Linked DNA regions of Homo sapiens. The protein of the gene in region 2 interacts with the protein of the main gene of each other region in a pairwise test. Each region holds a gene or a part of one and is shown on either strand. Other genes may lie near its edges.

The links.
Region 1: the proteins of PSTPIP1 (region 2) and NCBP1 interact in binary tests that used the Homo sapiens proteins (3 or more experiments, as listed by UniProt).
Region 3: the proteins of PSTPIP1 (region 2) and EXOC5 interact in a two-hybrid assay, tested with the Homo sapiens proteins (one large-scale study listed by BioGRID).
Region 4: the proteins of PSTPIP1 (region 2) and HHEX interact in binary tests that used the Homo sapiens proteins (3 or more experiments, as listed by UniProt).
Region 5: the proteins of PSTPIP1 (region 2) and HAPLN2 interact in binary tests that used the Homo sapiens proteins (3 or more experiments, as listed by UniProt).
Region 6: the proteins of PSTPIP1 (region 2) and FBXL18 interact in a two-hybrid assay, tested with the Homo sapiens proteins (one large-scale study listed by BioGRID).
Region 7: the proteins of PSTPIP1 (region 2) and SYCE1 interact in a two-hybrid assay, tested with the Homo sapiens proteins (one large-scale study listed by BioGRID).

Annotation. Positions count from the first base shown.
Region 1 is NC_000009.12:97,661,321-97,664,820, reverse strand, and holds part of NCBP1 (nuclear cap-binding protein subunit 1), read right to left. Parts: intron 2,780-3,500; coding exon 2,677-2,779; intron 1,868-2,676; coding exon 1,774-1,867; intron 482-1,773; coding exon 378-481; intron 1-377. UniProt on the Homo sapiens protein: Component of the cap-binding complex (CBC), which binds cotranscriptionally to the 5'-cap of pre-mRNAs and is involved in various processes such as pre-mRNA splicing, translation regulation, nonsense-mediated mRNA decay, RNA-mediated gene silencing (RNAi) by microRNAs (miRNAs) and mRNA export.
Region 2 is NC_000015.10:77,035,551-77,037,975, forward strand, and holds the end of PSTPIP1 (proline-serine-threonine phosphatase-interacting protein 1), read left to right. Parts: coding exon 1-13; intron 14-251; coding exon 252-385; intron 386-1,494; coding exon 1,495-1,626; 3' UTR 1,627-1,925; downstream 1,926-2,425. UniProt on the Homo sapiens protein: Involved in regulation of the actin cytoskeleton. May regulate WAS actin-bundling activity. Bridges the interaction between ABL1 and PTPN18 leading to ABL1 dephosphorylation.
Region 3 is NC_000014.9:57,234,406-57,237,905, reverse strand, and holds part of EXOC5 (exocyst complex component 5), read left to right. Parts: intron 1-539; coding exon 540-568; intron 569-2,085; coding exon 2,086-2,195; intron 2,196-3,500. UniProt on the Homo sapiens protein: Component of the exocyst complex involved in the docking of exocytic vesicles with fusion sites on the plasma membrane.
Region 4 is NC_000010.11:92,688,714-92,692,754, reverse strand, and holds the start of HHEX (hematopoietically-expressed homeobox protein HHEX), read right to left. Parts: upstream 2,801-4,041; 5' UTR 2,769-2,800; coding exon 2,408-2,768; intron 388-2,407; coding exon 209-387; intron 54-208; coding exon 3-53; intron 1-2. UniProt on the Homo sapiens protein: Recognizes the DNA sequence 5'-ATTAA-3'. Transcriptional repressor. Activator of WNT-mediated transcription in conjunction with CTNNB1.
Region 5 is NC_000001.11:156,622,415-156,626,225, forward strand, and holds the end of HAPLN2 (hyaluronan and proteoglycan link protein 2 precursor), read left to right. Parts: intron 1-1,052; coding exon of another isoform or gene 1,053-1,076; coding exon 1,077-1,161; intron 1,162-1,392; coding exon 1,393-1,746; coding exon of another isoform or gene 1,747-1,750; exon of another isoform or gene 1,751-1,883; intron 1,884-1,936; coding exon 1,937-2,053; intron 2,054-2,186; coding exon 2,187-2,369; intron 2,370-2,686; coding exon 2,687-2,970; 3' UTR 2,971-3,311; downstream 3,312-3,811. UniProt on the Homo sapiens protein: Mediates a firm binding of versican V2 to hyaluronic acid. May play a pivotal role in the formation of the hyaluronan-associated matrix in the central nervous system (CNS) which facilitates neuronal conduction and general structural stabilization.
Region 6 is NC_000007.14:5,475,810-5,479,309, reverse strand, and holds part of FBXL18 (F-box/LRR-repeat protein 18), read left to right. Parts: 3' UTR 1-3,500. UniProt on the Homo sapiens protein: Substrate-recognition component of the SCF (SKP1-CUL1-F-box protein)-type E3 ubiquitin ligase complex.
Region 7 is NC_000010.11:133,555,584-133,559,083, forward strand, and holds part of SYCE1 (synaptonemal complex central element protein 1), read right to left. Parts: intron 3,369-3,500; coding exon 3,294-3,368; intron 2,632-3,293; coding exon 2,584-2,631; intron 2,336-2,583; coding exon 2,281-2,335; intron 1,574-2,280; coding exon 1,484-1,573; intron 1,240-1,483; coding exon 1,176-1,239; intron 465-1,175; coding exon 398-464; intron 321-397; coding exon 197-320; intron 125-196; coding exon 14-124; intron 1-13. UniProt on the Homo sapiens protein: Major component of the transverse central element of synaptonemal complexes (SCS), formed between homologous chromosomes during meiotic prophase. Requires SYCP1 in order to be incorporated into the central element.

The DNA.
Region 1 (3,500 bases), on a different chromosome or scaffold from region 2:
CTGGTGTGCATTCTAGGTGCCATCCCCACTGAAGCTGGAACCCTTCCCGAGTTCCATCTGGACTAGCTGAGACTCTGCACATAGCTGGCTCTTGCTAGTTTTCTCTCCCAACAGTCTGGATCCTTCAACAGGATTTCTACTTCACTGGCTTAGCCTTGATTCAACTTAAGAGTGTCCCTGCTAAGAGACGCTGCAACCTGATAGGCTGTGTATGTTTCCACTGTCTAGGAATTTTTGCCATGTCCAATCCTACCAGATTGGACCATTAGTATATTAATATCAACCTGGTTTGGACCAGAATTTGAAGCTTATGTATAAGAGACCACACATATATCAATTCTTAGGGAACACAAGTTTCATAAAATAATTTATATTACCTGGTAAAGTCACGAGATAGTTCTGAAGAGAAGATCCAATTTGCTACGGCAGCACAATCAACTATTTGTGTACGAATCATCTTATCCACTAGTACAGCAATCATCTACAATGAGAGAATTATTCAAGTAAATCACACACACACATACACACACATATATATGTGCCACCACACTGCTGCTATAAAAGTAAAATAGGAGGGCTATAAAATTTAGTTTTGGTGGCTATGGAATTGATTGATCAATCTGACCATTAGGTCTTTTTTTTGGGAGACAGAGTTGCTCTGTCACCTAGGCGGGAGTGGAGTGGCACGATCTCAGCTCACTGCAACCTCCACCTCCTAGGTTCAAGCAATTCTCCTGCCTCAACCTCCTGAGCAGCTCAGATTACAGGTGTGCACCACCATGCCTGGCTAATTTTTGTAATTTTAGTATAGACGGGGTTTCACTGTATTGCCTAGGCTGGTCTCGAACTCCTGGCTTCAAGTGATCCATCCATCTCGGCCTCCCAAAGTGCTAGGATTACAGGTAAGAGCCACCACGCCTGGCCTGATCATTAGGTCTTAAGATTTATTCTCCCCTTTGCTTTGCTCTAGCACTACAAGAAACAGGTTGACTAAACAAAAACTCTGAATGGTAACAGTTAAAATTTGAAAAAACTGGCCAGGCGCGGTGGCTCACACCTGTAATCTAGCACACTTTGGGAGGCCGAGGTGGGCAGATCACCTGAGGTCAGGAGTTCCAGACCAGCCTGGCCAACATGGTGAAACCCCATCTCTACTAAAAATACAAAAATCAGCCAGGTGTGGTGGTGGACGCCTGTAATCCCAGCTACTCGGGAGGCTGAGGCAGGGGAATCACTTGAACCCGGGAGGCGGAGGTTGCAGTGAGCCAAGATTGCGCCACTGCACTCCAGCCTGGGTGACAGAGTGAGACTCTGTCTCCAAAAAAAAATTTAAATTTCAGGTACTAATACGTATTCAAAAAAATACATAATTTCAATGAACCCCAGAAGTTAAATGTAAAACAATGTTTTATCATTACACACTCACTGTTTTATGAAATTTATTTAAATGTTTCTTTGTCATACACAATATATATCAAGGTTTGAGAAATCTGGAGCTTGCATTTAGAAACTGGATAGACTAGATAAACCTTTTCCTGAACATTTAAAACATATTGAGATATTATAGTTCAAAACCAAATCATAATAATGCTTACTCTTTCAAGAATGAATGAAACATCATTACTCCCATAGCACTGAAAGAATTAGATCTAAAAACCATTATCTAGGCAGAGTCAAATTTCATGTTTTACAAACAAAACAATGGCAATTAACGGCCTTATTTTTATACCCATACAATCAGAGCTTCAACATGTCTAATTAAATAATTTTTACCTGTGGATGGTTCCTCCAGACCTCAAACATAACTCTTAGCACATGTAACTTTCCTTCATCACTTTCAGCTAGGGTTTTGAAGACTTCATGAAACCTTTTGATAATGATGGGAAAAAAATACCATATATACTTATTCATTAAACATTTTAGTGTTTTCAAAGCCTTTTCAATGTTACTCAATTTATAATGCAATATATAAATGCAAAATAACTAAGTATTAACCATTAAGGATGCAAAAAGTGTGATCACAGATTGATAGTTTTTAAGGAAGCTGTCACAAAATCTCAAGACATTTACAATATACTACCGTTAGCCCAGGGCTACAGTTTAAAAGAATAGGTAAGGACTAAGGAACTGTCTTCAAACATGGTGAAATATTCAAACTGCATCTTCTGTGGGAACCCTGCAAGTAATATAAAGCCTTGGAGACAGAGATGGGGTGAGATGTCCAGTTTCTCTGCTTGGCAGAAGGAAAATCTATGTGCTCTTTCTTCCTTTGGACCCTGTCTGACAAGTTAAAAATACCTGTCTTCAGATGCCAACCTTTGCGTGACTCCCAACAGTGTAGCTGATTCTAATTTCTTCTTACATTGCTTTGGAAAGATATTTAGCGTGGGAACTTCCAACTGCATATGACTGTCCCAAAAACCTAGGTTTTTCACTAGTTTCTTTAAATGTCTATATGAAAAAAAGCACTTACCATGTACATATGCCAACTGTACAAACAGACTGACGGAAGCCTTAGGATATGGATTTCAGCTACCACAAACCCAAACCCACTGTGTCCAATTATACACTATTAAGATCTTCATATTCAACAATCTTAGGTAAAAATTACCATACCACTGGTGTTCACCAAGCAAAATTCCAAACTCTCAAGCAAGGCTCTGTACTCATACATACTTTGCAAGAGCACTGAAGGAGTGGCTGAATGATTTGGCTGCCAAGTGTAGCAGAGTCTGTACAAAGACTTCTATTTTCAATGGGTTAAAACTGAATCCTTCATCTGAAAAATATTTTATAGTAAAACAGAAAAATGTAAGCACAGCAATTCCTTGGTGCCTTACCTCAAATGCTAAATAGATGGTTGCTCACATCTATACACAGATATTTGTGTAATGTTTTTTGGTTCTAATAAACAATAAAAGACCGTCACTGATTTCAAACACTGAAAATATGAAACCACTTGTAATTTTAAGTCTTAGTTTTATGTGACTGTCTTAATTCTATCATCCATTCCTTGAAAAAAAAAAATCACACAGGTTTCCTTATTCATAGCCTCTATTATATTAATACCAAAAAAAAAAAAAAAAAACACTTAAGCTTATGTCTTAAGATGTCTGACAACATCTGAATTTAATGCCATCATTTTGGCTTATTCTTTCTAAACTCATTTTCTCTAATATCATAATACAAATTTCTTAGAGATATCCAAACAAAATCCCAGTAATAAATACCCAAAGGCCACTAATATCTTATTTTGATTCAGTAGTTTTTCTATGTGCATATCCATTTATTGATTCAGGCAACTGTATAAATTATTTTGTCAATTTTCCCACTCTTGCCCAGAAAAACTCCTAGGATTCTGGTTGGAATTACATGGTATATAACTGAGTAAATGTTAAACATTATTATTCTAATAGCTTAACTTGGAGAAAACATCCAACTTTATAACACACCAAGTCTTTCTATTCAGGAACTTCTCTATGGTGAAAGCAGGGGTTAAA
Region 2 (2,425 bases):
GCAGCTTCTGCTGGTAAAGGGGGTCAGGAGGGGACCCCCAAACACACTGATCCTGGGGGGGAGGAGAGGTCTCCCACATGGCACAGATGGGGCCACTGAGGCCCTCAAGAGGAAGTGTGTGTCCCCCAACAGCAAGTGTGGACAGCAGAAGGAAGAGGCAGGGCCCAGCATGGAGAAACCCCATTCTAGTAGGACTTCCAGGGGCCAGTGTCCCCAGAAGGGGAGGGGTCTATGTCTCACCCTGCTCTTAGCGTCCACAGAGACCCTGACCCCCACCCCCGAGCGGAATGAGGGTGTCTACACAGCCATCGCAGTGCAGGAGATACAGGGAAACCCGGCCTCACCAGCCCAGGAGTACCGGGCGCTCTACGATTATACAGCGCAGGTGAGGCCTCTATACCCCAAACCCACCTGTGCCACCTCCCCTGCACCTGAGAGCTCCCTCTCCCATCCAGTGCCTTGCGTCCTCATCTCTCCTCATGGTTTCACTCATCTTCGAGCATCCTCTCCTCCTCAGGAGGGCACGTGTGCCCGAGTGTGTCCACACTAGCAAGGGTACCTGGGAGTGTGCTTGGATGTGAGCTCTGAGAACAGCACCCAGGGCTTGCGGGGCCTCAGTGTGCATGTACTGACTGGAAGCTGGTGTGCAGCAGGCCTGTGTCTGCCCGGGCCTGTACACAGCACACACGTGGAGCACATGTACCTATGCCGTCCACACAGGCTGGGCGCTGAGTGGTGCACACGTGCGGGGAGCTGGCAGAGCCTGGAGCTGCCTGCAGGTCATAGCTTGAGGGCCAGGCTCTGTGCCTTTGGGTCAGGGCCCTGTCCTTCGTGGCCATGGGTGTGGAAAACTGTGGCCAGAATGAGTCTTGCTATCGTGCCAGGATTGATTTTCTGATGTCCATAGGGTGAGGATGAACCAAGGCAGCCACAGGGCAGCTATGAGAGTCCTTTCTGCTCCCTGCTTGAGGGGAAGAATGCATAGCCAGACCTCACATCCACCTGGACTGAGGCCAAGCACCCCCACATAGCCAGGCAGGCTGGGTGTGGACTCCACTGATGAGGCCAGGGCTCGGGGAGGCAGGGAAGCCAGGCCAGGAGAGTGATGGGGTACTTGGATGGCAGTGGCTAGCTGGGGCTGGGGACCGCAAAGGGGAGGCTTGTGGTAAGCTTAGGCATGAGTGTGCCCTGGGCTTGGGGTATGATGAGCACCCGTGACCCCTGACATGCTCCAGTCACTGCGTCTCCAGAATGGGAGAGGGGAGGTGAGGCTGGGAAGAAACCCAGGTTGGGGGAGAACTATGATGACAAACTGAGGGGGATGGGAGGCCCGGTCCGTTGGGTTACCCCCATCCTGTGTCCCCAAGGGGCTGCCCCTGCCCACCCTGGGAGACATGCCGCATTTACTGCTGGGTGGGGGAACGCCAGGCCCCTCCCTGCAGGCCCTTCCCTGCAGGCCCTTCCAACGTCATGCGCTTTCAATCTCTTGGCCAGAACCCAGATGAGCTGGACCTGTCCGCGGGAGACATCCTGGAGGTGATCCTGGAAGGGGAGGATGGCTGGTGGACTGTGGAGAGGAACGGGCAGCGTGGCTTCGTCCCTGGTTCCTACCTGGAGAAGCTTTGAGGAAGGGCCAGGAGCCCCTTCGGACCTGCCCTGCCAGTGGAGCCAGCAGTGCCCCCAGCACTGTCCCCACCTTGCTAGGGCCCAGAACCAAGCGTCCCCCAGCCCCGAGAGGGAGCCTGTCGTCTCCCAGGGAATAAAGGAGTGCGTTCTGTTCTCCTTGGTGTGCTGGGGTCCCGTTCTCTTTTTCTCCTGCTCCAGTGTCCGAGTGCTCAGTTCAGAGGAGGCAAAGGAACAAGGGAAGGAGCCTGGATGTGGAGCTCCCCAACTCAGCCGAGGCTTCAGCTATAGTTGGAGAAGAGGCCTGGCCCCAGTTGCTAGGAGCTCCCAGACTGCCAAGGAGACACATTCACACCTGGACAGAGGACACAGGGGTGCAGGAGGATGTGGCAGGGGCAAGAAGGGGCTCAGCAGGGCTGCAATGGGGAGAGCAGGCTTCTTGGGGGCGGAGGGTTGAGCAGGTCCATGGCTGGGCAGCAGTGGCCAGGCCAGGGCAAGTGCGTGGGCAAAGGTGAGGTTGGGGGTACACCCAGGAATATTCGGAGGACTCAGTTTGGAAACAGGAAGCTGGTGATGGATCTGTTGGAGAGGCCATGGTGGGAGCCCAGGAAGACAGGCTTGTGGCTTGTGGGTGCAAGTGGGGCCTGGGGAAGCCACTGCTGCCCATGACACTCCCCTCAACATGGCAACCCCGGCCGAGCAGGGGTCCACAGCCCAGGCACGTTGGCCCCGGGCACAGAGGGAGCTGTTCTTGAAGGCCTTCAGCCCCTTCTCTTTTTAGTCCCAGGAACATAACTTTCAC
Region 3 (3,500 bases), on a different chromosome or scaffold from region 2:
TAGGCACATTGCTGGGTCTTATCATTTGTCATTAATATATCATCATATAATATATTATTTGATCATCTTTTTCTTTTGAATAATAATGATGGAACTTTATTTTTAAAAATACCAACCATGGGAATGGGGAGGGAGACAAATAATCAAGTGTATTTAAAATGCCAGCAAATAAAAGTAAGAACAGTAAGTCAGTTTTGGGACTGGCTGGGTTGTTAGTGTCTTATGCAGAGCAGTTGATTCTTTAAAAAGAGAATTGATTTTCAATGTGAATTTCCTAAATGAGAACCAGCTACCTACCTACATTAAGTTTTATCACCTGGCATGCTTCCTATCAGAATTCTCTCCTCTGATTTTGTCTTTTTTCTTTTTACAATAACCTTTTAACTTTATAATGGTTTTGGATTTACAGAAAAGTTGCAAAGATAGTACAGATGGTTCTCGTATCTCCTGCACCCAGTTTCCCATTTGGTTAGCATCTTACATTGCCATAGGATGTTTATCACAACTAACAAACCTCATGGTTGGTTTTTGTCTTTCAGATTTTCAGAAGTTAAATCCAAAATTGCAAGTAAGTGATGTATTTATTTTACCTTTTTTTTAATAAGTAAAAAAACTACTTGTGTAAAAATAAAACAGCAAAAGGAGAAAAAGCAGGAACAATGTCATCTTCCTACCCTAGTAGGCTACTGCATAGAAGATCCCTGAGTTTGATTTCTCTTCCCTCAAAACAACCATTACCAGTTTTTTTGGATATTCTTGCAGAATAATCTATGGATATACAAGCATAAGACATAAATTCTATATATGTGTGTGTGTACATATGTATGTGTATGTATAGATATTTATATGTACTTCTATCCTCATTTATTTTTAAATAATTGCTACCATACTATATAAATAGCTTTATACCTTGCATTTTTAATTTAATAGTGCATTTTGGAAATCCTGTGCTTTCCATACATCTATCTCTGAATAAGATTCTCTCTTTTTTTTTTTAAGATTATATAAGCATTTCAGTATCTATTTAACTCCTTACATGATTAGTTTGGTTCTTGCCAGTCTTGGATTTTAGTTTAGGTTAGATCATTCTAGGTTTTTGAAAAGACCACTAAATTTGCAGGTTCTGTGGTAGCTGGGGTCACTATTTAGAGTAGGCCACTGCATAGAAGATTCAAAGATTCATCTATATTCCCAAAAAGTCTTAGAATAAGGATGACACAGCTAGTTAGACTTCCTGGGAATATTTTTGATCACAATAGATTGGTCTGAAGTTCAGGTGTTCGTTAAGAACCATACTAGCCTCAAGAATATAGTGAATAGGGCCGGACATGGTGGTTCGCACCTGTAATCCCAGCACTTTGGGAGGCCGAGGCGGGTGGATCACCTGAGGTCAGGAGTTCGAGACCAGCTTGGCCAACATAGTGAAACCCCGTCTCTATTAAAAATACAAAAATTAGCTGGGTGTGGTAATGGGTGTCTATAATCCTAGCTACTCAGGAGGCTGAGGCAGGAGAATCGCTTGAACCCAGCAGGTGGAGGTTGCAGTGAGCCGAGATCGCGCCACTGCACTTTGACTGGGTGACACAGAGAAACTCTGTCTCGAAAAAAAAAAAAAAAAGAAAATGAAAAAAATATAAATACTGCATATTATCAGGATGAGATTTGGTGTTCAGTCATCAGTCCACTATTGTTCTAGGTAGAGGCATCAGAACTCTAGTAAAGAGTTCTGTAGTCCTCTTCACCCTTTCCATGTGTAGGATTTTTCATGTGTGTTGCTATCAGAAATAGCATCTGGAGGATTTTTTCCAGTCAGCTACTGGTTTAAGTAACAATGGCATATGACAGTCAGACCCTGGAAAGCTCAGTAATTTTGCCAGTTTGGAAGTTTTTTGTCTTGAAAATATAGATTTATATGCCACAGTATATTACAGGGGCTGGGTTCACGGCCTATAATCTCATTTGTTTTTGTAATTCCTTCAAAAGAAAGCTATATTCATAGTCATTATATTTGTAAATAATGTAGATACTCTTAAATAACGTGGATGCCTTGTATGCCTCAGTGTAGCTGAATGACTTTATTTTTAGGTAAATACCATGATTTAGAATGCCAGCTGATTCAGGAGTTTACCAGTGCTCAAAGAAGAGGTGAAATCTCCAGAATGAGAGAAGTAGCAGCAGTTTTACTTCATTTTAAGGTAAATAGTAGGAATTAAAAATGAATAGTGTTCAAGGCTATGGAAATTACGTAAGTTCTATATATTATAGTCTCTGATTTCCCCCATTCATTATGTAACTATCACAGTGATAATTTTCACTGTTTTGAGTAATTTGTACATTTGATACTCTGTAAATGGTATTGAATGTTATATATTTAATATTTAAGGTTTTATATTCAATAATATTAATATTGAATTAAAATTAATTGATCAATTAAATATTGATGAATTTTTATACTTTGATAAAGAAAATCATATTGTCTGCCTTTTTGCTTCCACATATTATAATATAGGTGAAAAGAAAGAAAACGTGACCGTAAATATCTGTAGGATATAGGAACCAGAGAGTAGATGGAACATGACTAGTAAGAGACTTAAATCCAGGGGACCTCAGGAGGTAATACAAAAGAATTTTGTATTACGGAATTGTTTACCTAGAATTTGAACTCGGGAGAGAATCCCTGTGTAGGAGTATATTTCTGCAAAGAAAGTGCTTAAAGAAATGGTTCTTCCTTCAATCTGTTTCTTTGATTTGTATCAGATTAGGGAAGGGGAAGCTATTTGTTGGACTTTTCATTTTGGTAAAATCTGAATGAGTATTGAGAATGGCTCTTGAGACAGTAGTGCACTTTATATTGCTTTCCTTACTGGTTTTTATGTATGATTTATTAATAGGCAAAAATCTCATTATGGTGAGCTTAATGACAAATCAGTTTGTTTTAAACACATTTTATTAAAATACATTTAGTTTAAAAAGTAAATTTCCAAACTACCAGCTGAATACAACTGTCCAGATTCTTGCAAGGAAAACCAAATGCTAGAGAAGGCCAGGCGCAATGGCTCACTCCTGTAATCCTAGTATTTTGGGAGGCCGAGGCGGGTGGATCAGTTTAGCTCAGGAGTTCGAGATCAGCTTAGGCAACATGGTGAGACCCTGTCTCTACAGAAAATACAAAAATTAGCCGGAGGGGAGGCATGTGCCTGTAGTCCCAGCTACTCGGGAGGCTACAGCAGGAGGATCGCATGAGCCTGGGAGGCAGAGGTTGTAGTTAGCCAAGATGACACCATTGCATTCCAGCCTGGGTGACAGGAGTGAAATCCTGTCTCAAAAAAAAAAAAAGAAATATATATATACACATATATATATATATACACACACACACACACACACACACACACGTATATATACACACTTTAATATATATAAATATATTTATATGTATATAAAACACATACATATATATATGTAAAACCTTTTCCCAAGACCTTGACTCTCTGTGTATG
Region 4 (4,041 bases), on a different chromosome or scaffold from region 2:
ACCTGTTTTAGTCTCCTCCATTTAGCGCGTCGATTCTGAAACCAGGTTTTGACCTACAGGAAAGAGAGAAAGAAAACTTGCAACGAGCCCGCGTCGGGACGTGCCAGAGGGCAGGGTGGCTCCTCGCCTCTCTCTCGGTGGCCCGGCGACCCCTACCCCAGAAGCCTTCCCTTCCCCGGAGGCGGCCCCAGGCCCCCCGCGAGCTCACCTGTCTCTCGCTGAGCTGCAGCATCTTGGCCAGACGCTTCCTCTCGGGCGGAGAGAGATATTTCTGCGTCTCGAATTTCTTCTCCAGCTCGATGGTCTGGTCGTTGGAGAATCTCACCTGGCCGCCTTTCCTTTTATGCAGAGGCCTCTGCAAGAAGGGGCTCCAGAGTAGAGGTTTGCCTGCGAGCGGGAAGAGCGGCGCTCACCCACTGCCCTGGAGCGGCCTGGCCAGACCCCAGAGCTGTCGGGCCCCAGGGATGACAAAGGTAGGCCAGGAGGCCACCCAACCAGACACATTCACATACACCCACCGGCACGTGGACCTAACACGTTCCCACCGACACACAAACATACCCAAAGTCACACACTGACACCGCAGATGCACACAGCCTTGTACACACACAGACAGACACACAGCCGTCACACCTAGAACTAAATCCAGACATACCTTTAACCCCAAAAAGAATGGGCACTACCGGCTGGGCTTACAATACCACGACCCTCTTTCCCCAGTGGCTCTCGGATTTATACATAACTTTTTGCCCCCTTGGATCTCCCTTGGTGAGCCGCACTTGCGAACACCGGGTGTGTGCGTGTTGGGGAGGAGCGGGGCTGCTGCACCGACAAGGCCTGGCTGCGCGGGAAGCGCTCGGGCCCGGACACCCGCATTAGGTTGCGCGAGGAGCCTCCAATCCTGGCCGGGGGAGCCGCGGCCTCCTCTGATTTCACACCCAGCCCGCGGGGGCGGCCAGTTAAAGCCACCCCATGGGCTATGGCAACATTTCCGTCAATGTGTTTCCTGTTGGTCTAGCTCGAAAAACTCTTTGCTTCCTCCTGCGCGGTCCCAGCAGTAACCCAAGGAAACTCAGGGCGCACTGTGAAAACGTTAGCCCCCAGGCCCGGCCCGGCTGAGGGTCCCGCTCCAGCCCCGACAGGCGACCACAGCCAGGCTCGGGCCGCATCATCAAACCCTCGAGGCTGGAATCAGACAGACAGGATAACAACTCAAAAACATAAAAAGATGAACTAAAAATACAATCCCCCTCCCCTGTTAACGGTGAGAAGGTAAGGTAAAGGGCTGAGCTAGAGCCCGCGCCGTAATAATGGAGACATTAAAATGCTAATTAAGACGTTAATTGTTTTCAGGGTCCCTACTGAAGCTTCCAATAACAGAGTTCATTTAAAACTCTAGAGGCGCCCCGTTTCCTTATTTACCCTAGGGCTCCAGACCTCGAAGGCGCCAAGGGTCACCCACAGCGCGGACCACGGGCGGCTTATTTGTTAGGCCGCACATTGAGGGGACAAGCCCCGAAGTTCTGGAATATATGCCCTATGTGTCCCTGCTTCCCTTCCTAACTGGCGACCAGGAGCTGCTGCTTCCTACTCCCAAAGTAGTGTCGGTCGGTCCGTCCGTCCGTCTGCAGGCCTGCACCTCAACGCTTTGAAAGCTAGCATTGTTTTTTCGAGATTTTGCTTGCGTCAGGCTTCAGACTGGTGCAAAACAGCCTCGAAAAAAAATAGGAAGCAACTGGTTATTTTAGCTGCCATAAAGTCACATCCCACACAGAGGAAATGAACAATATCAGAAAAACGGATCCCGGCTATCAGAAGTCGAGTGTTTCCTGAATTTGTCTGTATTGAGGATGTCGATAAAATAATCAGCAGCGTGCACTACTCCGGGGGAAGGGTCTGCTTCATGCAGCCAGGAAAACACTTAACAGCTTCTGAAACCAGATTTACTCCTATCGAGAACTCAAGATTTCCTGTATGAACGGAAAGGGTCAGGCTCTTTCACTGCACAAGCCTGTTGAACCAGGTCCAGCCCCGTAGCCACCCGGGCCCGGCTGCGATCCCTGCCCCACGGGGGCCGGCCAGGGGCGCCTCGACGCCCCTTTCCCCGTCCCTCCCGCTAAGGGAGCCCCACCCCGGGTAACACGCGCGGTCCACGGCTGCCCTCGCCGCGAGGTCTACCGCCGGCCCGCGCGCCCCGACGCCTGCAAGGTGCAGGAAAACCAATCTGAGTCACGGTGCGGTCAGCCCCGGCCGCGCGCCTCCCGTCCCCGCGCGTGCCCGACAGCTGCTTTTCCATCGCTTTTGCCACAGCCGTCTACCGCCTGCCCCCTTCGCCCCCTCGGCCTCCCGGGCGCTGCCACCTGCCGGGTGGCGCTTCCTCGCCCCCACCCTCGCCCGGCCGCCTTACCCAGGGGGTCGTGGCGGAGCAGGGCGTGCGTGTAGTCGTTCACCGTCCGCGGGAAGGGGTACAGAGGGCCCCCGAAGCCGCCGGGTCCGTAGGCAGCGGCCAGCGCGGCGGCGGAGTGGTGCGAGAAGGCTGGATGGATCGGCGTGGGCTCGTACACCGGGGTCCGGTAGGGGGACACGAGGCTGGTGAAGGAGGAGTTGGGGGACGGCAGCGTGGGGGCGGGCGTGGGCGCGGCGGGCCCGCGGCCCAGGATGTCCTCGATGTAAAAGGGCGTCGGGTGTGCGGGTTGCAGCAGCGGCGTGGGCGCGTACAGCGGCACCCCCACGGCGCCCGCCGCCGGCCCGGGGTGCGGGTACTGCATGGCTCCGCCGCGCTCCGGCCCCTCGCAGAGCTGCTGGCCCGCGCCGCGGCGCTACATTTATCCGCGCTCCGCGCTCCCGGCGATAGGCTCCGCCGGCCGCGGGGTGGGGCCGCGCTCGCTGGCCCCTTCCTGCCGCCGGGCCCTGCGGCCAATGGCGCGGGGCCCCAAGAGCAGCCGCCCGCCCCCACCCCGGCCCGCCCCGCCGGCCAAGCTCCCCGCCCCCGGGACGCGCTTGCTACCAGGCTCCGGGGAACTGGCGCCCTGGTGCCCCGCCGCGGCTGTCGCCCCTGGGGACTCCAGGCACCCCGGCCGAGGACGCCCTCGAGGGAAGCCCTGGGCCGCGTCCGTCGGGGGAGGCGCGAGGAAGACCGCCTTCTGGAGTGCGGGCTCCAGCGGCCCTGTCCGCGGCCCCGAGGCACCTCTGCCGAAATTCGGGGGCGCCGTCCAGGCCTGGGCCCGGGGTGGCAGCAGCTGTTTCCAGGCGGGGAGCAGCGGGACTCGGCGGGAGCAGAGGCCGCTGGCCTAAGACGCCTCCTCGGTGGGTGCGCTCCCTGGATTAACAGTGGCGCTGGCTGTCACACCGGCCGTTTCCCGAGCTCAGAGCGGGACAGTGCCCTGGGTTCCTAGGGCTGCTCGGCGGCCCTTAGCTGCGGCCCGGCGGGATTCGGATGGCTGGAGTTCAGGTGCTGCGGACTCTTGGCCGCTCCACCTGGTTTCATTTGGAGGCCTCGGACTCAAGCCACTTCCGCGAGGATGCTGGCAGAAGCCGCTGCGAGCAGCAATCAAGGGGAGGCCCGGGTCCTACAGCGCCGGGCAGAGGCTGTGCAGTCTTCAATCCAGTGGGGGCCGCTCCGTGTCTTTTCTGCTGGCTCTTGAGGGTCGCAGCTGTGCGCAGTCTGGCTCTCTGGTTTTGCACGTGTTTTCTATTGAAGCAGTCCGTACTGCTGGCCCGTATGGCCTCGGCTCTGTGCGGCTCCACTCGCCTCCGGGGCAAGGGGGCATTTTCTTGATTGACGCCCTCCTGCGGTCGTCACACCTCGCGGTGAGCCGTTTCTGCTAAGGTCCTCCATTAATCATGGAAATGGAAAGACTTCCCTGCTTTTTCTATTGAGACTTCTCAGGTTTTAAAGTTTATAATTTGGAACTATTTGTCCAAACACAGCGGGACCACAGTAGGAAGAGGCGTGGACTGTGAGCCTGACCGCCTGTTCGAGTTTCACTTCGCACATTTTTGTTGAGCAACTACTGTGTGCCAGCAGTGAAAAGGACAGAT
Region 5 (3,811 bases), on a different chromosome or scaffold from region 2:
CTGCACTCCAGTCTGGGCGAGAGAGTAAAACCCTGTCTCAAAAAAAAAAAGGTCCGCAGTCCAGCAGATCACAGTGCACTACAGTGTGGCAAACTGGGGGTGGGTAAAGGTTTCCCAAAGGAGGTGAGGCCTGTGCGACCAATGCAGGCACAAAGGAAAGGAAATGAATGCAAACTTGGACTGTGTGGGAAACTGCCAGAAATCCAGCATGTCAGGGGAACAGTGCAGAGGCCAAAGTGGTTAAGAGGCGAGGCGGGGACCATGCTGGAGGTGCAGGGAGCAACTGGATTATAGACAGCCTTGGAAGCTGTGGTTATGAGATTGGATTTTATCCTCAGGGCAACTGGGAGTCACTTTCAAGCAGGAGAGTGACAAGGCCAGGCACGGTGGCTCACGCCTGCTGTAATCCCAGCACCAGCCTTGTCAACACAGCATGACCTTGTCTCTACTAAAAACTTAAAAAGAAACAATTAGCTGGGTGTGGTGGCACATGTCTGTAGTTCCAGCTACTCAGGAGGCTGAAATGGGAGGATCACCTGGAGCTGGAAGTTAGGGGCTGCAGTGAGCCATGATCATGCCACGGGACTCCAGCCTGGACCATGGAGCAACACTCTGTCTCAAAAAAATAAATAAATAAATAAATAAATAAATAAATAAATAAATAAAATAAAAAAGCAGGAGAGTGATAAGATCATTTTGACTCTGGCTTCAAGATGGAGAATGGGTGTTGGGAGAGGATAGAGACGAGCTGGCAGTCCAGATGGCAAGCTTGGGAAGTAGCACTTGTGATGAGGGGGACAGGTAGAGAAGATGCTAAATTAGTACCTGCAGGCTGAGAGGATGTGACAGAGGAAGAGAGGGAGAGGAAGGGGATTGCTACTGCCTTCTTCCCCTCATCACCTTCATTTTGTCACCAACCCCTTTTCTCTGCCCCAGTGGCTTCCAGCTGGACAGTCCCTTCTAGGATCTCTGATGGGAGTTCACCCACAACCCTGCTCTTCCCCACCCTTTTGCCCCAGTCCTAAGAACTGCCCACTCTTTGTGCCCTGCAGACGGTGCCGGGCTGACCCCCCATCATGCCAGGCTGGCTCACCCTCCCCACACTCTGCCGCTTCCTTCTTTGGGCCTTCACCATCTTCCACAAAGCCCAAGGAGACCCAGGTAAGACCCCAGCCCAGGCCAGAATCTGGGGGAGGCTTGGGGAGACTGCAAGGGTGGGGAAAGGGGAAAGGGCAGTTGTTGCAGGTACCCAGGGACTGAAAGTCATTGCTGAGAAGGCAATGGAGGAGAGGGTTGGGGGGCTCTGGAGAAAGCATTTGGGGAGCAGGGTCTGATGGGCACTTGGGGCAGTGAGGATTGGGGGTTCCTGCCACTGTGGCCCCCTCTGCCCAGCATCCCACCCGGGCCCCCACTACCTCCTGCCCCCCATCCACGAGGTCATTCACTCTCATCGTGGGGCCACGGCCACGCTGCCCTGCGTCCTGGGCACCACGCCTCCCAGCTACAAGGTGCGCTGGAGCAAGGTGGAGCCTGGGGAGCTCCGGGAAACGCTGATCCTCATCACCAACGGACTGCACGCCCGGGGGTATGGGCCCCTGGGAGGGCGCGCCAGGATGCGGAGGGGGCATCGACTAGACGCCTCCCTGGTCATCGCGGGCGTGCGCCTGGAGGACGAGGGCCGGTACCGCTGCGAGCTCATCAACGGCATCGAGGACGAGAGCGTGGCGCTGACCTTGAGCTTGGAGGGTGAGGCCCTTCCGCTCCCGCCCCATTCCTGTGTAGCAGCGGGTCCGCCTCGCCTGGGTCTCCCAGGGCTCCTTCCCAGTATCTCCTCCGCACCCCTGGGGACCCCAGCTCCCTCTCCCAGGCCGCGCCGCCCTTCCTCCCCCTCCGCTCCCATCCGCTGGCCCTCCCCAGGATCCCCGCCACCCCCTAGGTGTGGTGTTTCCGTACCAACCCAGCCGGGGCCGGTACCAGTTCAATTACTACGAGGCGAAGCAGGCGTGCGAGGAGCAGGACGGACGCCTGGCCACCTACTCCCAGCTCTACCAGGGTGAGCGGCCGAACCCAGCACTTCCCAAGCCCCGCGGAGCTGTCTCAGGGGCCCGAGAGAGGGCGCCAGGCGAGCTCAGTCTGGCTCCTGCCTATGACGCCTCTTATCCCCGACCTCCGCCGTCTCCCGCCAGCTTGGACCGAGGGTCTGGACTGGTGTAACGCGGGCTGGCTGCTCGAGGGCTCCGTGCGCTACCCTGTGCTCACCGCACGCGCCCCGTGCGGCGGCCGAGGCCGGCCCGGGATCCGCAGCTACGGACCCCGCGACCGGATGCGCGACCGCTACGACGCCTTCTGCTTCACCTCCGCGCTGGCGGGTGAGGCGCGGGACGAAGGCAGGGTCTTGGGGAGGGGTCTGAAAAATGTGGGGGACGAGGAGTGGACCTCAGCTTGAGATCAGGGCAGGGTCTCCGGGTCCCTCCAAGGCACCGCCCCCCCATCAGCCCGCCCGCCCGCCCAGGCTCCAGCTCACCTCTCCAAACCCTCCCTGCACTTTTGCCTCGATCCCCCAACTCCTCTTACCCAAGCTCGATCCAGCACCTCTGCGGTCCCGCACCCCAACTCCGCCTCCTGGGTGTCAGCCGCCCCTCTCCGCCCACCCTGCCCTCGGTCGGTGACCCGCTGTGGTCCCCAGGCCAAGTGTTCTTCGTGCCCGGGCGGCTGACGCTGTCTGAAGCCCACGCGGCGTGCCGGCGACGCGGCGCCGTGGTGGCCAAGGTTGGGCACCTCTACGCCGCCTGGAAGTTTTCGGGGCTAGACCAGTGCGACGGCGGCTGGCTGGCTGACGGCAGTGTGCGCTTCCCAATCACCACGCCGAGGCCGCGCTGCGGGGGGCTCCCGGATCCCGGAGTGCGCAGTTTCGGCTTCCCCAGGCCCCAACAGGCAGCCTATGGGACCTACTGCTACGCCGAGAATTAGGCGCCCACCGTGTCCCCTCCAGCGCGCGCGAAGAAGCTTGGGAGTCGTGGCGGGGGTCTCTCGCCACCCCTTTCCGGAGAGCCTCCCCTCCCTCCAGACCCGGAGCGGCCTCTCCAGACCTGCCTTCCCAGCCGGGGGCTGCGGGCCTCGGACCCCGGCTGGCCCGGCGGCGGGGAGGGGAGGCGGGGGCGCCTCCGGCGGCGAGATGCAGAGGTGACCCTCGGACCCGCTGCCGTTCGCGAACCCTAGCAGAGGACTCAGCCACCGCCGGGGGGAGGGTGAGGCGGCCGGGGGCATTAACTGACCTCTGAGTACAGCAATAAAATAACCTGGGGATCTTTTGTGTTGGGTGGAGCTGTAAGAGCTGCGAGGCGTGGAGGGGTGTGTGTGTGTGTGTGTGCACGCTCATGTCGGGGCTGATGACCCGGGATCCTGCGTGCCCACTGAGCACCTAAGACAGGGTAAGGGGCAGGGCTGTTGCTGTTAAGGGATGGGTCAGCGGAAGAGCGGGAGTGCGGCCGGAGGGCACCAATAGGCCAAGGGAGAGAGAGAAGTGGAGACGTAGTGGGCGCCTGGCCCAGGACCCACGCAGAACCCAGCATGTTGTTGCGCCAGGCGCCACGCGGGGGCGCCGCACACTCACCTAAGATTAGTTCAAATCTGCCAGGGGCGCCCCATGCCACCAGGCCCACCCTATGTGCCCCAGATAACAAATATAAGACAACTTAAACATATTTCAAAATGTGCAGGCTGCAGACCTCCCTGAAGCGTTTGCGGGGACTACTGTTAAAGATAGGAAAGTCATATTGTTGCTAGAATTGACAGGAAATTAACCTTGCGT
Region 6 (3,500 bases), on a different chromosome or scaffold from region 2:
GCATCCTAGCGTGTGTACGATCGCGCCTGGGTGTCCTGTTCTCATGAGCAAGCGGTTTTAACCAGCAGCATAATTTATACTCATAGACAGGACTGGGGGAAGGGCTGTTCCTGAGGCTGGGGTGCAGTGCCTTGGAAAGCACCCCTGAAACAGTGGACCTTGTATTTTTAGTGTCCCCTGCAACCATCCTCTGACTTAGAGCAAGAATTTCCGCTGCTGCTACCCCCGAGATGGGCTTCACCAGATGTTAATAACGTGCTTATTTTCTCTAAGTGCTATTTTGGCACCAGCGTTAGTTGCAATTTATATTCTGCAGCATTTGATGCTGGGAAAAGAACCCACCCTAATGGTCCCCAATTGGCAGAGCTCGGCTGTTAAGCAGCAGACCATATGCTGCCTGCTGGAGGAGCGTGGTCAGCACTTGTCCCCGTGCCTGCGTGCGTGTGCCTGCGTGCACGTGTGCCTGCGGGTACCTGTGCCCTGTGTGTGCACATGTGCCTGCATGCGTGTGCCTGCGTGCACGTGTGCCTGTGTGTACATGTGCCTGCGTGTACCTGTGCCCTGTGTGTGCACGTGTGCCTTCGTGTACCTGTGCCCTGTGTGTGCATGTGTGTGTGAGTCACGTCTTCCGTGTGTGTATGTGAGGGAGAGACTGTGGGGTTGGAGGGAGGGAGGAGGGGAAAGGGTATGTATCCCTTTGTTCTTTAAAAGGGAGAGCCCCAACCTCTCTGGCTGCCCCCTCCTGCCTGTGCTCCCAGCTCACCCCACACCTAGCTGCTATTTATTCTCCTGACCCCCTTCCCGGCCCTGCAGCCCCGTGTCCCGCAGCCTCCGCCCCGCCTCCTGCTCCACGTCACCAGGCAACACTCGGCTCCACCAGGCTTCCGAAGGTGGCCCAGAGCAGGCACTTGAGCCTGATGACCCAGAGCAAAGCTGCCTTTCTGGGCCTTGAGTACTCCTTTCTGCTATGGAAGGCTTTTCTTGTTTTCAACGGCCCGTCCAGCCCAGGGGGGCTGGGTGAGGGCCGCTTCCTTCTGCAGCAGAGGGGGCGGGCTCTATCCTTGCCATCTGCTGCCCCCAGAGGCCCTGCCAGGACATGGGCCTGAGCGGTTTCTTCTCCAAGAGGCCCTCCTGGGACCTGTCTGTGCACAGGGCGGGAAGACACTTGCTGCTTCGACCCAGGACGGCAGCCAGGACGGGCTGAGCTCCTCTTGCGCTGCAAACACACAAGGGTTGCCTGCCAGCTCAGCAGCGCCCTCCCTCAACCACACCCTGGGTCCGGACCCAGAGCCACAGGCCGTTGGACCCAGGGGACCGGGGCTGGGCTCAGGCGTGGGCCTGGAGGGCTTGTGGAGGGGCCAGACCTAGAGCCGTAGGGCTCCAACAGCTGAGGGCTGGGCCCCTGCCGGCCAATGAAGCTCCAGACCAGTGCTCCGGCCTTGGCGGTGCCAGCAGTGCTCCTGCAGGGATGGAGGGTGCTGGAGGCCTGGATGCGGGGACCTTGATCCCCCAGCAGGCAGCGCTGTGGCAGCCTCCCACCTCCTCTTCCCCTGTTATCTGCTCCTTTTAGGATCTGAAAATTACAGAGCCTTTTTTTTTTTTTTGAGAGGGAGTCTTGCTTTGTCCCCCAGGCTGGAGTGCAGTGGCACGATCTCAGCTCACTCACTACAACCTCCACCTCACAGGTTCAAGCGATTCTCCCACATCAGCCTCCTGAGTAGCTGGGATTACAGGCACCTGCCATCATGACCGGCTAATTTTTGTATTTTTGCAGAGATGGGGTTGCACCATGTTGGTCAGGCTGGCCTTGAACTCCTGACCTCAAGTGATTCTCCTGCCTCGGCCTCCCAAAGTGCTAGGATAACAGGTGTGAGCCACCGTGCCTGGCGCATTACAGAGCTCTTGTAAGAAAACGTGTGAAATTCATGGACAAAGTGAGGTGATGAAGTGTGGGGCCACTAAACCAAAGGCAGAGGAGACGTCGGCCACTTCCTGTGGACGTGGGCAGAGCGCTGCTGCCAGTTCCTGGTAGCCTTGACCACGACGCTGGGGGGTCTTTGTGATGGTCATGGGTCTCATTTGCACTTGGGGGTGTGGGATTCAAGTTAGAAGTTTCTAGATCTGGCCGGGCGCAGTGGCTCACGCCTGTAATCCCAGCACTTTAGGAGGCTGAGGCAGGCGGATCATGAGGTCAGGAGATCGAGACCGTCCTGGCTAACACAGTGAAACCCCGTCTCTACTAAAAATACAAAAAAGTAGTCGGGTGTGGTGGCGGGCGCCTGTGGTCCCAGCCACTCAGGAGGCTGAGGCAGGAGAATGGCATGAACCTGGGAGGCGGAGCTTGCAGTGAGCTGAGATCGCACCACTGCATTCCAGCCTGGGCGACAGAGTGAGACTCCGTCTCAAAAAAAAAAAAAACAAAAGAAGTTTCTAGATCTACTGGGCATGATGAACACAAACCCCACAGACACTGAGGAACCCAGTGGTGGCAGTGACTCGGGCTCCTCTGCTCTCTAAAGCTCCTTTGAGAAACATGGGAGGGGCCGGGCGTGGTGGTTCACGCCTGTCATCCCAGCACTTTGGGAGGCTGGGGCAGGAGGATCGCTTGAGCCCAGGAGTTCGAGACCAGCCTGGGCAACATAGTGAGACTGTATCGCTACATAAAATAAAAAAAAAAGTTAGCTGGGCATTGTACATGTGCCTGTGGTCCCAGCTACTCAGGAGGCTGAGGCAGGAGGATTGCTTGAGCCCAGGAGTTGGATGTTGCAGTGAGCCAAGATCGCACCATTGCCCTCCACTCTGGGCCACGGAGCAATACCCTGTCTCAGAAAACAAACAACAAAAAGCAGAAACGCTGAAGGGGTCGGTTTACGGGAAAACCGCCTGTCAGAACACTTGGCTACTCCTACCCCAGATCAGTGGACCTGGGAATGAGGGTTGGTCCCGGGAGGCTTTTCTCCAAGCTGTTGCCACCAGACCCGCCATGGGAACCCTGGCCACAGAAGCCTCCCGGGGAGTGAGCCAGAGCCTGGACCGCTGTGCTGATGTGTCTGGGGTGGAGGGAGGGTGGGGAGTGTGCAAGGGTGTGTGTGTGCCCGGGGGGTGTTCATGGGCAAGCATGTGCGTGCCTGTGTGTGTGCGTGCCCCTCCCCTGCAGCCGTCGGTGGTATCTCCCTCCAGCCCCTTCGCCACCTTCTGAGCATTGTCTGTCCACGTGAGACTGCCCAGAGACAGCAGAGCTCCACGTGGTTTTAAGGGGAGACCTTTCCCTGGACCTGGGGGTCTCGCCGTATCTCATGACCAGGTGCTAAATGACACGACATGCATCACCTGCCTTTCGATGACCAACCTCCCTGTCCCCGTCCCGCTGACCTGCCCCCGTGGCGTCTCACGGTGATGCCTGCTCCTGACATTGGTGTTCACTGTAGCAAACTACATTCTGGATGGGAATTTTCATGTACATGTGTGGCATGTGGAAAATTTCAAATAAAATGGACTTG
Region 7 (3,500 bases), on a different chromosome or scaffold from region 2:
CCTCCACACGCACCTCTGCCGCTTCTGCTGCTGTTGTTGGCACTTCTGCTGCAGCTGCTGGTGGCGCTGGGCAGCAGCTGCTAGGAGCTCCTCAGCCTTCCTGTGCTCTTCCTGAAACAGCTGCCTGGGGGGCCCAGTAGGGGGTGGTCAGCACCGGCCACTCCCTCCTCCCACCCTCTTCCCCTCCACATCTTACACTGTGGCTGCAGCCTCCTGGCTGCGGAGAAAGAGTCCCTCATCAAGGGTGGAGGGGCCCTCAGCCCCACACAGGGAGCACAGCTGATGCTTCACGTCTTCCAGTGTCGCCTTGACCAGCTTCTCTGCAGCACAAAGGGGCAGGTGAGCACATGAAGGCACGTGAGGTCAGATATGGGCCATCCACCTTCCCTGGTCTCACCTTCCTTGAGCAGCTGCTCCTTGCTGCTGTCCAGGGCACAAATCTCCTTTGCCAGCCGCTCTGGCATCTGAGGGGCAGAAAAGAGGCCTGTCCACTCCTCTTGGCTTTCCCCCATGCCTCAAAGAAGGCTATCTGGATCTTGTTTCATACTTACTCACTATGCCTCACTTCCAACAACTCTGCCCCTCTGTGCACACCAGCTACAGTACAGCCTCAGGGCCATGGCACTGGCCATTCCCTCCCTGTGCACTTCTGTCATCCCACATCTCTGCGGTACTGCAGTGGGGATGCTCATGGATTGTTATTTACAACAGATAAACCTGCAAGCACTGTGAGTCTTGGCTGTTTTCTGGAGGATCAGGTACCGGTTTAGCTCTGCAGCTCCTCCCCACTCCCCTCTGTCCTGGTGTGACCTCCTCACTGAGCCCTTCCTTCCTGACACTCACTGTCTATTTTCTTGTTCAGTGCCTAGGATCCTCCTGGGGGACAAACACGGGCTGCTTATCCTCGTTGTCTCCTTTGTGCCCGTGATGGTCCCAGACACATCCACGGACAGTGATGGAAGACTTGACCTTGGTCTCATCAGAGATCCCCCTGACCACTGAGCAGCAGGGTCACAAGGAGGTGACAAGGGACTGGATTCAGGCAATGTCGATCTTAGCACCACCAGGGCTTGCTTGGCGACTGGTTGTGGCAGGTGAGAGGAAGAAGTGACCGTTTGGGCCTGGTGCTGCTAGGGAAGATGTGGAAGGGGGAGGAGTGGCTTTGAGGGACTCACGTGGAAGTCCCAGAGGTCCTTGTGCTGGCCCATCAGATCTTCCAGCTGTTCCTCGAATGCCAACCTGGGAACCAACCACAGGCATGAGGGGATATGGGCTGAAATCACCACCTTCACAGCCTGTCCAAGTCTGTGGTTCTTCAGGCAGATTTTGGGGTGCTTTGCCCATGGTCTCTGCTCCACTGGGAACATCTTCACCACCTTGAATCTCCATGGCTCAGTGTAGCCAGCTTTTCTAACCCCCATCTTTGACATTATATCCCAACTACTGGCCATCCAAACCCCCTGCCTCAGATGCTAAGGTTTACCTCAGCTGTCTCTGTTTGTTCTTCTCTTCTTCAATCTGCAAGTTCAGGGCAGAAATTCTCTCCTTGCACTCCTGCAACATGGTGTGCTTCCTGGGAGAGGCGAGGCAGCCCTCAGCCATGTTCTCTTAAGCCCCAGGAGGGCACTGGGCTGGGGCTTCTGCCTCCCTCTATTGAGGCTATTTTTTCCCTCTACATTAAGGTCCTTCTCTGTAACATGTGGTAAGTAGGGAGTGACATGACCATTTGCCCCCTGGAAGTATTGTTGTCAGGTTAAGAGAGATTAATGTGGACATGGTTAAGTGAGCAAATGCACACACATCTTAGTATCATCTCGTTTTCCCAAAGAGCTGAAATCTCAGTGTGCCAGGGCCTGGGGCCTCTGGTAACAAATGAGCTAAATCAGGAGGTGGAGAAATGGATGGACAAATCGATGGGTGGATGAAAAGATAATGGATGAATGGAGAGAGAATGGACAAATGGTTGGCTCAATGCCTAAATGAACAGACAGATGAGTGAATAGACATCCAAGGAGTATGACAAAGAGTAAAAGGCAAAAAATAAAAACCAGCTGAAGAAATTTAATTGACAATTTAGCAAATGAATGTCTTGCCATTGAGAGAGTTTCCCTTAACACTACTGCCAGCTGTTGGAGCCGAAGGGGAAAGACATTCTTTGGACTCTCCATTGTTTAGAGGGAAACAATGAGAGCTGTGGGTCTCAGATTCATCTTCCTGCCTCTTTCTGCTCTACCAGAATAAAGAGGTAGTGCAGAGTTAGGCTCAGCTGGAAGCTCTTACCTGTGTGCCTCACTTTCCTTTTCCTGGCAATGCAGCCGGAGGATCCTCAGGGTCTCTGTAGGGAGAGCAACAGGGCCCTATGAGAACCTGTCAAGGTATTGGGTTTTGGCAGGGGGAACACAGCCAGATCATGTCAGGTCTGTGGACACCTGATTGAGCTTTAACATTTACTACATGTCTGGTGGAAGCCACAGGAGAGAGGCAAGCTGGGACAGGTTTCAAAAGGCTTCAGCTGCCATAGGGAGAGTGGGCTTCTGTGGGTTGGCAAAGGCACAAGCCTGGAGACAGGGGAGCGGCAAATACCTTGTTTTTTGCTCAAGATCTCCTTCAGGTGTACTTTCTCTCCATGCACTAGAAAACAGTGACACATTTTGGCATCAGGGACTATGCACTGCACCCTCAGGGATGGGGCTTGCTCACGGTCACATGGGAAGCTGGGCACAGCCTTGGCCCCAACCCAAATGTGAACCCTTGAGGTGAGCCCCTCCCTACCCTCTGGTGCCCACATTCCTTGTAAGCACCAAAGGGCCTTCACATTTACAGAGGGTGGCTGTGAGGGCCCTGGAGGATGCTCGTGCTTTTACATGGGGAGGAGAGAAAAAATACCAACACCCACGAAGTGGGATAAGGGCTATAAAGAAACACATCAAATAGGATGGGGCATGTGACCAGATGGAGGCAGGGTGCCATCTTTAAATGGGATGATTGGGGAATGCCAGTCATCCTGTCTGGGGACATTCTAACTTAGAGCTGATGATGTGAGGAAAGAGGAACCTGTATTATCTGAGGAAGCACAGACAGCGTCTGGCAAAAGCCCTGAGGTGGGAATGAGGTTGGAGGGTGTTTCCTGAACACTCCCACAAGCAGAGAGGAGAGGGGGAGATTGGCAGGACATGAGGCTAGAGAGGGTACAGGACCCTTGGCCATGGCAAGGATGCTGATTATCTGGAATACAGGGTTAGGGGAGGCTTAAGACACTGTGGGGACCTCTGGGTGACCCCCGGCTCTCTTACGCGAGTCCAGTTCCTTCTGCAGGGCCTCACAGATGGTCCGGGCCTCTCCTAGGTCTTTATTGGCTTTCTTTTTTGCTTCACCAAAGAGCAGAAAAACATTGTGTGAGTGCAGCCTCTATTCTCTTCCCAACAGTGACATTTCTCATTTGCCTTCAGGTAAATCTATAGTGGCCTAGATTTTATAGAGTAGGAAACGAGGCTTCCAGC